Linked DNA regions of Homo sapiens. The protein of the gene in region 2 interacts with the protein of the main gene of each other region in a biochemical or structural test. Each region holds a gene or a part of one and is shown on either strand. Other genes may lie near its edges.

Region 1 (8,199 bases), on a different chromosome or scaffold from region 2:
CTTGCCCTAGGACTCAGGTAAGAATAAACTCCATTTTACTGTGAATTCATGGATGCTGACTAGAAATAAGAAATTTAAGTTAGGTTCCAAAATCAGACTCATATTATTCAACAAGTCCAATAAGAACTGATGGTATTAAGTGAAAAGGACCTGATTAAATCATTACAGCTTCTCAAAAGTTAGAGATGGAATTCAGTGTTTGACCAGCTGAAACCTTAATGTTAGTAACACCATAGGGGACAAAAGAGCAAAAGACAAAATGTTTAATACATACTCATCAACAGAGCCCGCCAATGGCTTTTTTGATCGCTTAATGGCATAAATGCATCCATCCAGCCTCTTCACACACTTAAATACAGAACCAAATTCTCCAGAGCCGATTTTCTCTAGCTCATGAAATTCTGTTGTATACCGGGACTTCATATTGCTTTCAGTAATTGTAATTCTCTGTAATAAAAAGTGTTTCCATATATGTAATACAAATATACGAAAACAGTTATTTCTTGCTATGGTGATAGGGCTATGTGTGAAATTTAAAAACCATTCTACCTTATGTGTTAATGCTTATTAACATATTCATAGCATGCTTTAAGTGGCAGAAAAGTAAATTTCAAAAAAATAAAAATAAAAAGCTATTTACCTTAGCAGGTCTTGTTTCATCTTCAAGCTCATAATCACTGGCTTCCATGTCTTCACCACAGGAACTAAAAAAAATGTTATTTTTCTATCAATATATCTGACAGATACATCCATGCCATTAAATAGGAACTAAATTTTGATAAGTATACCAAACCAATCTTAGGTTATTTGGAGAACCAAACTGTTAAATAAACGACTTACTCATTCCAATACGTTCTCTTTCTACGACGACACTGTCCTGAGGAATGAAGCAACAAAGAATCCGGAGTAAAAGGATTAATATTCACTTGAGGAGTCTGTCGCACATCAAATTCCCTTTTTCCTGATTTTTCTGTATCCATGAAGAGAGAACTACCCCGGAGTTTAACAGAGCTGGAATCAATTCCCCGAGCTTTGGAGAGCAAACTCTAGGGAAAGAAAAATACAAATACAATTTTTAGGATCCAAGTCCTATAGTCAGCCTTCTCAACCTAACCTTCAACGAGCCTTTCATAGGGCTGAATGCGTAGGTGAAAGCAACACACAAGCCTTTGTTAGAGTTCAAGCAAAATAAATTGTGGCTAATTTAGGAAGACTGAAGCTGGATATTAACTATCTTTTCTTGAAAAAAATAGCCAAGTAAAATCTGCCTCTAACCCTAAAAAGAATATAAATGCTGCCTAAAACTAAGTTCATTCTAGTGGCTAAAAGTTAACAAATTCTTTCAACCCATCCAAAAATAGAAAGCAGTCCGAGAGCCCCATAAAATCTCCCCTCCCCCATCTAGATAGGGCTTCCATAGCCACCTCCGCTGGACTCCTCCCCTCACTTCCAGAGGGATTTTGCCTTGAGCAAGTCGGCCAATAAACAGTACAGCTCGAAAGCACACAGATTGCCTAGGCTGATGACAAACAGTACATTGAAAACAAAACAAACTCACTTTAAAAGGTGCATCTTCCCTGTTAACCTTACAAATGCGAGGCTTGTCTTAATCTCTGGAAGTATCAGCTTTAAAATCTGCAGTTTTAAAAGTGGTCATCTGCGCAGTACTCGAAGGCCTTTCAAAACACAGGTGCTGAACACCTCCTTCTTTAAGATACCTTATCTACGGTAGGATGTTCCTAATCACACGGAGGCCGGCCAAACTCTGGGCACCGCAAACCCACGATAAAAACAAATGCTGGGCCAAGACCTTGTCCAGAAACAGGCCTCAGTACTGCCTGGACTTAGGATGAGTCTGTAGGACTGTAAATGCTTGGAAGGCCAGCCTTTACTCCCAAGTCCAAGCGTAGTCTCCCTGCATGCCCCAGACCTTTCCCCCATCCACGCCACACGACACGACACGATCAGGGCGGGACAATTATTTTTCTTTAAACTCCTTCTGCCCGCGCCGCCCAAATTACAGGCCCGATCGCCGCGTTTAAAAGGCATCCTATGGCTCGGGAGTGTCAGGTGGCCGGGCCGGCACCCTCCAGCATCCTCGCGAACCGCGTTATCGGTGCCGCACTCGGGGCTGACACGCTCGGGGCGGCCCGGACTCAACGGGCGGCAAATCCTTGGCCACCCGGACGGGCCGATCGGCCCCTTTGTAAGATGAAGTTCCAGACGAGGCCCATTGTTCAGTTACATAATCTCAACGGACAACCTCGGGGCAGGGCCAAACACAAGGGCTGCCAACTTTGGGGGGCGGCGCAGGAAAGCGAGGGGGGAGCGGCCGGCCGCTTCTGTAACCGAACCCAGGCAGCGGCGCTGGCCCCTCCGGCGCCGCGGCCCCGGCCGCCGGGTGCCCGCGCCCGCCGCTCTCACCTTGGGCGTGTGCGGGGTGTCGAAGAGTCGCAGCTTGCGGAAGGTCTTGTGTGGCGGGGTGCCCGGGTGGTCCGGCCGCGGCGAGCGGCGGCCTTCGCCCGCCCGGCGCGCCCCGCAACCCCGCGGCGACGCATCTCCTGGGCCGCCGCAGCGCACCGGCGAGAAAGAGCTACCCAGGAAGTAGGGGGCCGCCGGCGACTTGACCGGCGACGAGGAGCCGAAGCCCTCCTCCTCCCACGAGTCGCCCTCCGCCCCACCGCCCGCCTCGTCCGCGCCCGGGCAGGCGCCGGGCAGCAACAGGTCCTCCTCCAGCTCGCCGGGGCTGCCGGGGGCCGGCCCGGGCGAGCGGCGGCGCTCGGGCCCGGGCTCCGTGGGGCTCCGCGCGGGCGGCAGCGGCGAGTCGGGCTCTTGAAAGGCCGAGTCCTCCCCGGTGCTGTGGCCGCTGCCCTCCTCCTCCTCCTCTTCTTCCTCCTCCTCACAGTCGCTGCAGGGCGAGAAGATCAGCTTCTGCCGCAAGGTGCAGGCCGCCCCGGCGCGGCGGGGTGGCGGCGGCTGCTGTCGGCTCAGGAAGCTCATCGCGGCCCTGGGGACGGGGCCGAGGACAGGAGAGCGGAGGCCTGCGGGGTCCAGGACACTGCGGGCCTGGGGGCGGGTCCGCCACGTGCGGCTGGGCGCGCCTAGTCGCAGCCGCGGCGTCTCTGCGCGGCGGCGGCCTGCGGCTCCGGGGCGCTCGGGCTGCGGACGGTGGCGGCAGCGGCGGCGCGGACTTTCCGGCAGAGGCGGGGCGGCCCGAGCACCGAGGCTGAGGTCTCCTCAGGTCCAGTCTCAGGTTCGGGCTCCGCGGCTTCCCGCGACCGTTAACCACGTGAGTGCCCAGTCCACCAATCCCAGTGCAGCTCCGGGTTTGAAAAAAAAAGGAGGGCGCGACGTAGCCCGCGGGGGAAGGACCAGCTACGCGATTTTGGCGGGAACCCGCTGGCTCCACCCCCGGCTCGGCGCCAGCCAAGTCTGGGCGGGCTGTGGTGTTCCGGGCCTATGAGCGAGCCTGGGGCGGCGGGGGGCCCGGCCCGGCGCCGCCCGAACACCGCCCGGACGGGGCTGGGCCTTCTGGGAGGGGCAAAAGAGAGCTGGATTCGCCTAAGCCGACCCGAAAGCCGGCCTGGACGCACCCCCCTCGCTGCTCCTCCGGTGCTGGGGGATCTGAAGAGGGGCAGGCGGCCGGGCAGCGCCTCCGGGTCTCTGCGAGCTGGGAAGAGCCAGGGACCGAATGGCCTTCGGCCGCTGCCCTCGGAGGCCGCTTCTTGCCCCTCGTCCCCTGGGGCGAGCCACTGGGGCGTAGTGGGCGTGGCAGTGGGCAGCCACGTTCAGGGTCGAGGTCTGAGCCGGAAATGGTGACTCGGGCCTCGGGACCTTTCTGAACTGCGGGAGCCGATGTGCTTAGGCTGGACACTGGCTGGGAGGAGGCCTCCGAGCCCCATTATTTCCCCGGGGTGGGTGACTGTTAGGGGCGGGTGTCAGCACAGCGAGAAGAGCTCTCCCAAGCAGGGGTCCACCTCTGCCGACCTTGTCCGCGGCCAAAAGAAACAGCAGCACAGTTGCCCACCACGAAACCAAGTGCCCGGCACACGATCTCCGTGTTTACATTTGTTCGCCAGCACGTGGGCATGCGTTGGCAAAACCGATTGGCCCGGCTCGCGGCAAACTCAAACGCAATTTTAAAAAATTTCCCTAGTGCTTCGTTAAACTGATTTAATCTGTCCCTTAATGCACTTACACGTTTCTTCCAGTTTTCTTTTTTCTTTCTTTGTTTATTTATTTTTTTTTTTTTTTCTGAGACGGGGTCTTGCTCTGTCACCCAGGCTGGAGTGCAGTGGCACGATCTCGGCTCACTACAACCTGCAACCTCCGCCTTTAGAGTTCAAGCGATTCTCATGCCTCAGCCACCCGAGTAGCTGGGATTACAGGCGGCTGCCACCACACCTGGCTAATTTTTGTATTTTTAGTAGAGACGAACTTCCCAATGTTGGCCAGGCTGGTCTCCAACTCCTGATCTCAAGTGATCCGCCCGCCTCGGCCTCTCAAAGTGCTGGAATTACAGACGTGAACCACCGCTCCCGGCCTCTTCCAGTTTTCTGTTGTAAACAACCCCGTGGTGTATATGCTTCCTTCTCCATGTTTTTTGTTTGGTTTGGTTTTTTTCGACACGGAGTCTCGCTCTGTCGCCCCAGGCTGGAGTGCAGTGGCGCGATCTCGGCTCACTGCAGCCCCCACCTCCCGGGTTCTCGGGTTCCAGCGATTCTCCTGTCTCCCGGGTAGCTGGTATTACAAGCACATACCAGGCCTGGCCAATTTTTGTATTTTTACAAAATGCAAAATACGGAGTTTCACCATGTTGGCAGGCTGGTCTCAAACTCCTGACCTCAGGTGATCTGCCCGCCTCGGCCTCCCAAAGTGCTAGGATTACAGGCGTGAGCCACCGCGCCTGGCCTTTTTAAAATACTCTTTTGGATACCTCCCTGGAGTTAGAATTCCTCAGTCAAAGGATATAAACTGGCAAACTCCCCCTCCAGAAACACAATACATTCTCACTAGCAGTGGATTAGAGCACACTCTGTGAATTCAGGACATCAGTGGATGTTCGTTGATGTGGTTTTGTTGTTTTGATTCATATTGTTGAACAGTTGTCATGGGTTTAATGATAATTTACATTTATCTCTATTGCCTATTTTTCTTATTGTTAGCACTTTATGCATATTAACACTTTGTCATATATGTTGTTCTAATGCTTTTCAAAGGCTAAATAAACTCAAGCTGAATTTTTCTTGAAACACACGGTAGTACTTAACACATCAAATCGGGAATTTCCTGAGATCACACAACTGAAGACACAGTGAAGGATCAACAGCTGTCTTTTCTCCTAACATTTGCTAACTGGTGTATAAATGTGTTTTTTATATGGTCATGCAAACTTAATTTTAAGCTCTTGGAGGACAAGAATTCTAGACTTGTATAAGGAGAGTTAGTCAATGATCCACAGTGGCCAAAGCCAAGGAGTGATTTTCAGAACCCTTGCTCCAACACTTCCCCTCCTGCCACTCCTTTTTTTTAAATTTTTATTTTTCGAGACAGGGTCTCACTCTGTCCACCCTGTCTCAAAGTGGAGTACAGTGGTGCAATCACGGCTCTGTAGCCTCGATCTCCCCAGGCTCAAGAGATCCTCCCACCTCACCCTCCCAAATAGCTGGGACTAATGATGTGTGCTACCACGCCCAGCTAATATTTGCATTTTTAGTAGAGACTCTGTTTCACCATGTTGCCCAGGCTGGTCTAGAACTCCTGGGCTCAAGCAATCTGCCCGTCTCCGTCTCCCAAAGTGCTGGAATTACAGGCATGAGCCACCATATTGCCCAGGCTGTGGGCCCCCTCCTGCCACTCCTGATGACAAATATAATTATTTGATATAATTGACATTTTCTCAATTTATTATGAAGCATAAATAAAAATAGAGAACCCTACTTTTATCGATCTGTAACATAAACTGCATGTGAAAATAGTGTGCTTTCTAAGTAAATGGGACTTTAAAGCCCTTTAGTTGCCTCTCCACAACTAGACTGATGCTCCTAAACTCCTCCTATGTAAGAATTCCGTATCTCTGTTCTCACGTCCCCTCCCTCACTCTTTGCTCTTTCACAACACCTGGCTTTATTTCCTTAGCAGGCTTATTTCTATCTCAAAGTACGTTGTTAGTTTATTACTATCTCCTTCTAGAAAAATAAGGTCCCCGAGGGTAGGGGACCCTTGTTTATTGCAGTATTCTAACGTGGATTAGGCGTTCACTCCCTTGTGAGTGATAAAAGAGCCCTTATTTAAATAATTGTTGGTTTATTCGCTTCCTAAATTGGCACATTTGCAGATAAGTTTGCCTATTTAAGATTTTGAATCGGGTGTGGTAGTTGTTCACACCTGCAATCCCAACACTTTGGGAGGTCAAGACAGGAGGATCACTTGAGGCCAGGAGTTCAAGACCAGCCTGGACAACATAGTGAGACCTCACCTCTACTAAAAATTTAAAAATTAGCTGGGCATGGTGTCACATGCCTGTGGTCCCAGCTACTCAGGAGGCTGAAGTGGGAGGATCCCTTGAGCCTGAGAGATGAAGGCTGCAGTGAGCTGTGATTGTGCCACTGCACTCCAGCCTAGGCAGCAGACCGAGAACTATCTCAGGAAAAAAAAAAAAAAATTGAACAGAGATCACCACTCTAGTACTCTATTTAATGCAAGATTGTAGAGGTAGCAGCCATCACACTTCCTATTTTTCCCCATGGTTTTTCCCCACTCCAGTAACAAAAACTTAAATGGTACAAAATTCTCCCACCTATCCCTTCAAATCCCAGCCCAGTTCCCCTTCCTGAAGGTAAACACTCTTAACAATGTTTTGTTTTGTTTTGTCAACTCCTACTTTGCCACCTGTCTGCGTCCCTAAATGGGAGGTCTTTGAAGTAGGCTAAGGCAGGCAGAAGGGCTTGGGTTGTGGATGGGAAGGGAAGAGTTCTTGGTCCACAGACCCAGGACTTTGAAGTCCTCACACAGAATCGAAGAGGTAAGTTCACAATAAATGTGTAGAATGATTGGGGGAAATAATTTTTTTTTTTTTTTTCCTTGAGACAAGGGTTTGCTCTATTGCCCAGGCTGGAGTGCAGTGGTGCGTTCACGGCTCACTGCAACCTCCCCTTCTGGGCTCAAGCAATTCTCCCACCTCAGCCTCTTGAGTAGCCAGGACTACAGGCAAGTGCCACTACACCTGGTGAATTTTTGTATTTTTTGTAGAGACCGGGTCTCACCATGTTGCCCAGGCTGGTCTTGAACTCCTGAGCTCAAGTGATCTGCCTACCTCAGCCTCTCACAGGGTTGGGATTACAGGTGTGAGCCACTGCACCTGGCTGAAGGAATTTTTTTTTTAAGTTGAAACCAAGACTCAGTGCTAGAGCCATTTCCTCTGTGAAGCCTTTCCTGACTCTCCATTCCCTACTCCAGACTTTCCACCGCACCCAGCACGGACTATGTAACACTCTTACTTTGTTTACTTGTCTGGTTTTCACACTGCCCAGGGCAGGGTCCAAACTGTGTTTGTCTTCAGAGCTCCAGCAACCAGCACTGTGCCTTGGCCCCTGAGAAAGTGCTTAATAAATGTTTCTAGAATAATTTAATGAAAATCCAGTGATCTTTAAAACAAAAGTGCCAAAATAACAAAACAAAACAAAAGTGAGAAACCCAGGCCCTGCCTCTTCAAGCTGAGAACATGGCACAATATTATGGTTTAACTGTAGCAACATCCTAACTGAAATTTTAAGTGACTGTTCTGATTTTTAAAATTTCACGCTCCTCTGAGTAAAGCACACACTGTACTGGAGAGATGGGTTACACCCGCCTGCCCCAGGCCGTATCTAATTCAAATTTCCAGTTCCTTTCTCCACCCAATGTTGTTTCTAACTAATGTTGCTAGGCAACTTTTGCAGAATCCACATGCTTGTGGTAATGTTGAAAGAACTGAGTAAAAATCTTGCCTCTAGCTTCTGGGATAACAAACCTAACCTGTTTATCCTCTTTAGATTCATGACTTCGCACGTAAAGGGCTTTAAAACTATTTTCAACCCATTCACCTTCCTTGGCAACAAAACAAGCAAGATTCTTCCCATGAAGATTTAAAACTGAGATTTCTAAATCACCTTCTCAAGTATTTTTAATACATATAGCACATGAATATGCATGCATATT
Region 2 (7,753 bases):
CATTTCTGTAGCCAAAGCCCCACATTTTTTTGTTTGTTTATTTTTTAAAGACAGAGTCTCACTCTGTCACCAGGCTGTAGTGCAGTCGTGTGATCTTGGCTTACTGCAACCTCTGCCTCCCAGGCTCAAGCAATCCTCCCACCTCAGCCTCCTGAGTAGCTGGGACTACAGACGTGTGCCACCATACCCAGCTAATTTTTGTGTTTTTTTGTAGTGACAGGGTTTCACCATGTTGCCCAGGTTGGTCTCATACTCTTGGGCTCAAGCCATCTGCCCGCCTTGGCCTCCCAAAGTGCTGAGATTACAGGCCTGAGCCACTGAGCCCGGCCAAAAGCCCCACATTTTAAAGACACATTCATTGAGACCTGGAAGAGTGGTCTTTTCGTAATATTGCCCAATTTTATGGTGTGAGGAATTGGACTACAGTATCAACAAAGACTTGAAATCTGAGAATCCTCCCCACCACCTTCTGAAATCTGAACCCCCCTCAGTAACTTTTCCCTATCTTAAAACTAATTGTTAAGGTAGTAACTTACATTTAGGACCCTCAAACTCATTCGCCTCATCTACCTTTACAAAGCACGTGTTTATGCTGTGTGAACAATGCCAGAATACCACAACTGGACTGCGTTTATGTAGCGAGTTCTTTATTAGCTTTTGTATAGCCAGACACCCGCAAAGGATGCTAAATGTATCCAAATGGATCCAGATGATGAGGTACCAATTCAAATTTATTTAGATCAAGAGCAGAGTTGTTTCTCTGGCAGAGGGAGCCTATGCCATTCCAATTCCTGGAGTTACCCCTGACACCTCCTTTCCTTCCTCTGCTCCTTTCTAAAGCAATCTGATGGTATGCAGACAATCAGGTCAGTTTCAAGCATGTTAGATTGTGCCTGTAATTTACGCAAATTGCTTTGAAAAGCCACCATTAGTTTCAGCAGAAAGGAAGTATTATCTAGCTCAACTTTTGAGAAGCAGCAGTCAAGAGGTATTTTCACACAAAAACTCAAGCATAATTAAATCTTATAAAGAGTGACCAGTATATATTGTGAACTGCAAGTAGGAAAACCGATGATTGAAACAACAGTTTTACCCGTCAAAAATATCAATAATTCAGGCATTTCATAACAGCCATAAAAAAATTAAACAGATTTGCTTTCCAACCCTTATCAATGACTGCTCCAATCCTGCTGAGCCTTAAAAGGTAAAACATGCTTTCATGCAATTATTTATCAACATCAACTATGTGCAAGGCTGCATAAGATAGAAGCTATACAAGGCAGAGTGCCTACCCTTAAGGAGTTTACAATCTAATATATCTGTCAGGTTATAAATCGTTAGTCTAAGACCTCTATCACTTATTATCGAGTGTCCCCTGGAACACACAGGTGAAAATAAACTTCTGCTTGAAGCAAAGGGAATGACAAATAGTTTCTGAAGTCCATGCTAAATCCTTTGTTATTTTTCTTCAAACTTGCTAATATCTGGAAAAGAACTTGCTTGATAACATATTGGTAACCAATTATAGCCAGCATGTTAGCAAGAAACCAGCTTCTTTTATTTTGGTCTTTGCAAAATTTGATCATTTGCTGATACCTAGCCTGTCTTTGGTCTCTGTTCAAATAAAATTTCACTTAAAACTGTATATTGTAATTACAGAAATATAAGAAAAGAAATGCAGTTAAAAAAATAGGTACGGTGAACTTGGGATGTTCAGTCTCAACAAATGTGTGTACCCACTGCATTCTTACACATTTATAAAAGGTTGAACATTTGTTCTGGAAGGGAAAAAAAGGGCATTTTAACCTCACCTTTCTTCACCCCTGACAGTTGCCTAGAAACCAGTCTTGCCCTACCTGTGTTGCAGGTGTACCTCAAGTCACCGACACATCTCTTTTAAAGCTACAGTCTCCATTCTGACTTAAGTTTATGACTAACCATCTATTCATATTTTTATCAGGTAAGAGACTGGTTTCTTTCAAGCAATGATGAAATCCTAATAAAGACTTAGCAAGCACTAATACAGCACCATTCACGGTTAAAGAGTCATCTAATTTGTACAGGGCTATGATATACATATAAATACACACACAAAATTCCCAATAAGCATTCACGTCTTGAACACATAATTTTGCAGTCCGATTCCATTCAAAGCCGTACTTAAGACACTCAGAGCAAAGAATCACGTTTCTAGGAGAGAAGGAAGAGTTCAGAACAGCTTAGACGAATTTTTAAATACTGATTTCGGCATTACCATCGTCGCTGTGAGATTAGGCAGAGGGAGCGGGGCTGACCGCCAGAGAACCGGTACCAACCACCGCAAGCAATCGCCGAGCCTCCCACCCCAGCTTTCAAGACAGGATTTACGGGTACACGGTGTGAACAAGACAACGCAACCCCCTTTTTACAAATAAAAAAAAAATCAAACAAGCCCCCAGGCCCGAAGACGCTCATCCCCGCCGGGCAACCCCGCGAGCGCAGGCTGCGGGACGAGGACCTTCATGCTCGCCGCTCCCGAACCCCCGTCCGCTCCTGCGGTCCCGGTGCTGCGGGGACGTATCCCGGGCGCTCGGGTGCATGGCCCCGGCCAGCCGAGGGGCCGCGCGACGACCACAGCCGGCGTGGAGAAGGCGGCGGGCGCCGGCACTTCGCGGCGTCCCCAGGCCCGGGCTGCGCCGCCGGGGAGGGTCCCGCTCTCCACACCTCAATGGGGAGAAGCCCGCGAGCGACCGGCCGGCCTCTCCCTCCATCCCAGAGACTCCGCGTCGCGGCGACCCTCCCCGCGCCCTCCACGCCCCCGCCCTCGCGTCGGGGAGCCGCCTGGATCCCGGCGCCCGGCGCGGGGCCCCCTGAGGGAACGGAGCGCTGCGTGGCCCTCCCCACCCCCTCAGCGCGCCAGGCCCCTTACCCCGGAGGAGCGGCGGCTGCCCCGCGGCGCCCTCCCGCGCATGTCCGTCCCGGCTGGCTCAGCGCCGCGGGCTCAGGGGCCCGGACATCGCGCAGGCGCCTCTTGCTGGCTCGCGCTCCCGCTAGCACTCTGCCTCGCACCGGACCGCCGTCGCCGCGGCTGCCGCCGCCGCCTCTATATATAGCATAGGCCGCCGGGCCGTGAGGTCGCCGCGTCCCGCCCCGCCTCCTCCCGCAGCCAATCAGGGCGCGCGCCGCTTAAAGGGGCGATGCCGTGGCCGAGGCGTTGCGCCGGGCCCACCGTGGCGTATCGCGGCGCTGCAGGGAGCCGGCTTTGTCTCCCGGAGAGGCGTCTCCGGGCTGACCGCGGCCGCAGCTCCGCTCCTCTGCCTGAGCCGTGCGGCAGCCCTGGGAGCCTCTCAACGCCGAGCTTTCCTCAGAAGCCCGCGGCGACCCGGGCCTCGGCCGCTGTTCCTGCCCGAACTGAGGGCACATCGCGCTTCGCGCGGGATTTCCCATAAATTCAGGCTCCGGGCAAGATTGTGTGTTTTTTCCTCTCCGCGGGCCGCCGCTGGCCGTGTGGGCCGAAGAAGCCCTGGAGGGGGAGAGGGGAGCCGCTCTCGACTGGGCTTGCGGCGTGGGAGGGACAGTGAGGGACACTTAGGGACTGTGTGGGGCAGTGAAGGATAGTGTGGGATGATGAGGGACCGTGTGGACCGGTGAGCGACTGTGTGGGACAGTGCGGGACGATGAGAGACGGTGTGGGACGGTGAGGGACAGTGCGGGACGATGAGGGACAGTGAGGGACTGTGTAGGACAGTGAGGGACAGTGTGGGACGGTGAGGGACTGTGGGACAGTGAGGGACTTTGGGACTGTGAGGGACTCGGACAGTGAAGGATGGCAAGGGACAGTGTGGGACAGTATGGGACAGTGGACAGTGAGGCACTGTGAGGGGCGGTGAGGGACAATGAAGGATGTCAAGGGACAGTGTGGGACAGTGGACGGTGAGGTACTGTGAGGGGCGGTGAGGGACAGTGTGGGACTGTGAGGGATGGCGAGGGACAGAGTAGGACAGCAAGGGAGGATGAGGGGACAGAGTGGGCCGGCGTGGGGCGGTGAGGCTACGCGGGGGGAACCCAGGGCTCCTCTGACTGCGTTGGAATATGGAGGAAAGGTCCTGCTCGAGGTTGAGCCCTTCAGGGTCGCTGTGGGTTTCCAGGAGGAGCTCCCTCACTACTGACTTAGGGGGCCCTCGGCTTCCCAGGTTTGTGTTTACTCAGGCGACCTGAGCTGGCCCCGACGTCTTTTGGCTTTGGAGAGGCCACGGATGCCCAAGGACAAAGCCCCAGCGGGCCTGTGGGAGGAGGTTTCTCGGGGCGCCAGTGATGCAACTTAGGCTTATAGTTTAACCGTAAAATAAATAATACAAATGATAACAAACCAAGAGTGACTAAAGTCAGAAAAAAAGCAAACAGACGGAAACCCTCTAGTTTTAACTAGAACAAATTCCCTGGCTGGTCCTCTGTTGGGAGAGCCCAGAGACCTGTCGCTGACCTCTAGCCTCCTGGAGCCCCTGCTTGCACTTCAGCAATAATGCCTGATAGTTAGACACTGATCACTAGCTAATTGGGGTAGTTTAACATATGGAATGAGATTCTGGCCTTATTATCAGGTTAACTATTAACTCTACACCCCATGAAATGATTTGCCTTTCCCCCACTATTATTTACTTACATTCTTTTTAATTTAATTCAAAGGCCTAATTTTGAATTCAAGGCCTTAAGCACGAAAAGGAAAAAAAAAAGAAAAAGAATCTGAAGTATCTTTGCCCTCTCTCACTTGCAAAACAAACGAACGTTTTGCAGAGAGAAATCTGGCTTCCTTTCTGATGGCTCTTCTGGCTTACAAGGGGCTGTTGGGTCATTTTCATGCCTATGCCATTTGTCAACAATTCAGTTAACCTATCTTCTTACAGCCATTCATTTAGTATTATTTTAGGATGATGGAAATGAGTCACAACTAATTGCAGAGTTCCTTACCAACTAACTAGGTTTTTTGATCCAAAGAAAATCTGTCCCGATTTTCCTCCCATTTTGGCGTCATTTATGTTTGTGGCTTACCCATATGCTGTTATCAGTGTAAAAAAAAGATGAGTGTGAGAACTTGCCAGGGTACATCTTTTCAAACCTCACGGGACAGGATTTACTGAATGGGCACCTAAAGGAGCTCAAGTTTCATCTGAAAGGAGCCCTGGCTATACTATTTCAAGTCACTACAATACAGTTGTAATTTGTGCTTCGGCCTTATTGGCGTGCTTTTACATTCCCCTATTCATAAAACAGTGATAATCACCAGAGCAACCATCAAACACACCCCTTCTTTAGAGAAAGAAGATCAACAGGATACTCACTCTACAGTTGTGAGCTGTATGATGTGCTAATGTTTTGGTAAATTATCAAAAATCATAAAATCCCATGAGTAATATGTGATTAATCTGATTTTTCTATTTTAAACAACTTGCAAAATAAACTTGATTTATTCATTTTTTGGGGAAAACCTGTTTAGCCACTAGTTTGCTGTGTTTAGCTTGCAGTTATATAATATGGCTTTCTCAGCTGTGGAAGAATTACATGAGAAGACTTACACCCCACAAATTTTTTATCTAATAGTCTGTTAATGATGTGTTATAATAACATTGATATGTCAATAATATTGTAGGACATCTTGGGAAGAGTTTAAAAGCAAAACGCTAAGCATCTTGAAGTAATACTAGCATGTTGTGTTTATTAAGTGATTATTCATTGACCTTTAATAGATTAGAACACTACACCAGAGATTCGGGGAAATAGTCTCTTTTTCCTGAACCCAATTTGTTTTAAATTATCTCCAGAAAAGCATGACATTTAAAGTAAGACAGTGTTTTTTATATCTCTCACAGTCTGCTTAATTTTGAGGCCATTTTCCAAGGAATTTATATTAGTTGATTTTTTTAATAGAACTCAACATCTAAAACGTTAGACTTGCATCACATTGACCCAAATTGTCACTTTTCACTTGCCCTTCTTTCAGTGTAAGAAGAAGCTGTCTTTGGAGTGAGAACAAGGGTGAGGTTCTGGCTCAGAAACCTTAGAATCACAGACACTGTTTTCCTGAAAACATTGCTTCTTTCTCTCATCTCAAAGAAATGCCACAAGTCGTGTGTAAGTATAACATGCTGGACAGGTCCTTATTAAATTTATATTTGTATTTTGATATTATTTTAATCCTGTAGAAGAACATATACATTTTGGTGTTTATTCTTCTTGATTATAGAAGTTTTTGTGTTTCTACTTTGTTTATAATAAATATTTTAAAGTTAAACACATTTTGTATGTCCCTCTTGGTCCTAGAGCCTTTGTTTCTGTCTATACATAATATAAATGTATATTATGCACTTAAACTATTTTATAGATAAGTGTGCAATAAAAAAATACAACCAAGAGAGGAATTACATTTCCTAGAGGGTGTTTGCTTAGTGTGCTACATTGCATTTTGGGAACATTCATATTTCTGTTCATGGATGTTTCCAAAACGCATGCATGTACACACACACACACACACACACACACTCAACATATAAAATAAACTCTAGGTGATTCTTTTCATTTTTTTGAGACGGAGTCTCACTCTGTCCCCAGGTTGGAGTGCAGTGGCGCCATCTCAGCTCACTGCAACCTCCGCCTCCCGGGTTCAAGCGATTGTCCTGCCTCAGCCTCCCTAGTAGCTGGGACTACAGGTGGGTGCCACCACGCCCGGCTAATTTTTGTATTTTTAGTAGAGACGGGGTTTCACCATGTTGGCCAGGATGGTCTTGATCTCTTGACCTCATGATCCGCCCGCCTCGGCCTCCCAAAGTGCTGGGATTACAGGCTTGAGCCACCGCGCCTGGTGAACTCTGGATGATTCTAAAACACACATGCTGATAAGAGCCTAGATTCACCCATGAGGAGTACCACAACCCCAAAGAGATTTCCATGGACTTTTCACTTTTCAACCTTAGTGGCCATTTGAAAAGTAGCACAGAAAATATATTTCTTGGCAACATTTCATTTTTCCTTTTTCTGTTTTTTTGTCTTTTTTGTTTTGTTTTGTTTTTTATTTGTTTTTTGAGACAGAGTTTTGCTCTTGTTGCCCAGGCTGGAGTGCAATGGCGTGATTTGGGCTCACCGCAACCTCCGCCTCCTAGATTCAAGCGATTCTCCTGCCTCAGCCTCCCGAGTAGCTGGGATTATAGGCATGCACCACCACGTCGGCTAATTTTGTGCTTTTAGTAGAGACGGGGTTTCTCTGTGTTGGTCAGACTGGTCTTGAACTCCCGGCCTCAAGTGATCTCCCTGTCTTGGCTTCCCAAAGTACTGAAATTATAGGCGTGAGCCACCATGCCCAGCCCATTTTTCCATTAGTTAATTAGGGGTACTGCTCTCCCTTCCTAGTTTTTCCCCAAAAAGGATACTTCGCCTGTGGAAGTCTGAGCAGGTTGGTTTTAATTTCCCAGTCTATTATTTTAAGTGTTAGGGCCAGGGCTTCACTGCTTTTTCTTAGTATGAGTTTTAGACAGGCTGTTCGCGTAGTTGTTTATTTTTAACTGAGCTACCTTTCATTTACCAAATGCTCTCTTAACATTAAATGCTATTGGTGGTTATTATGTTTCTAATTCTATCCCATCTTTAAAATGTGTAACTGTTGTAAATTTTTTAGTCTTGTGGATACATTAATTAATTAATTTTTATTTATTTGTTTATTTTGAGATGGAGTTTCGCTCTTGTTGCCCAGGCTGGAGTGCAATGGCGCAATCTCAGCTCACTG

What was found. Proteins that work in one complex are often made in the same cells at the same time.
Region 1: the proteins of ERRFI1 (region 2) and WEE1 form a complex in vitro, tested with the Homo sapiens proteins (one study listed by BioGRID).

What each region holds. Positions count from the first base shown.
Region 1 is NC_000011.10:9,568,735-9,576,933, reverse strand, and holds the start of WEE1 (wee1-like protein kinase), read right to left. Parts: upstream 3,265-8,199; 5' UTR 3,001-3,264; coding exon 2,425-3,000; intron 2,248-2,424; exon of another isoform or gene 1,559-2,247; intron 1,442-1,558; exon of another isoform or gene 1,425-1,441; intron 1,047-1,424; coding exon 841-1,046; intron 705-840; coding exon 641-704; intron 448-640; coding exon 275-447; intron 1-274. UniProt on the Homo sapiens protein: Acts as a negative regulator of entry into mitosis (G2 to M transition) by protecting the nucleus from cytoplasmically activated cyclin B1-complexed CDK1 before the onset of mitosis by mediating phosphorylation of CDK1 on 'Tyr-15'.
Region 2 is NC_000001.11:8,023,250-8,031,002, forward strand, and holds the start of ERRFI1 (ERBB receptor feedback inhibitor 1), read right to left. Parts: upstream 3,061-7,753; 5' UTR 2,909-3,060; intron 1-2,908.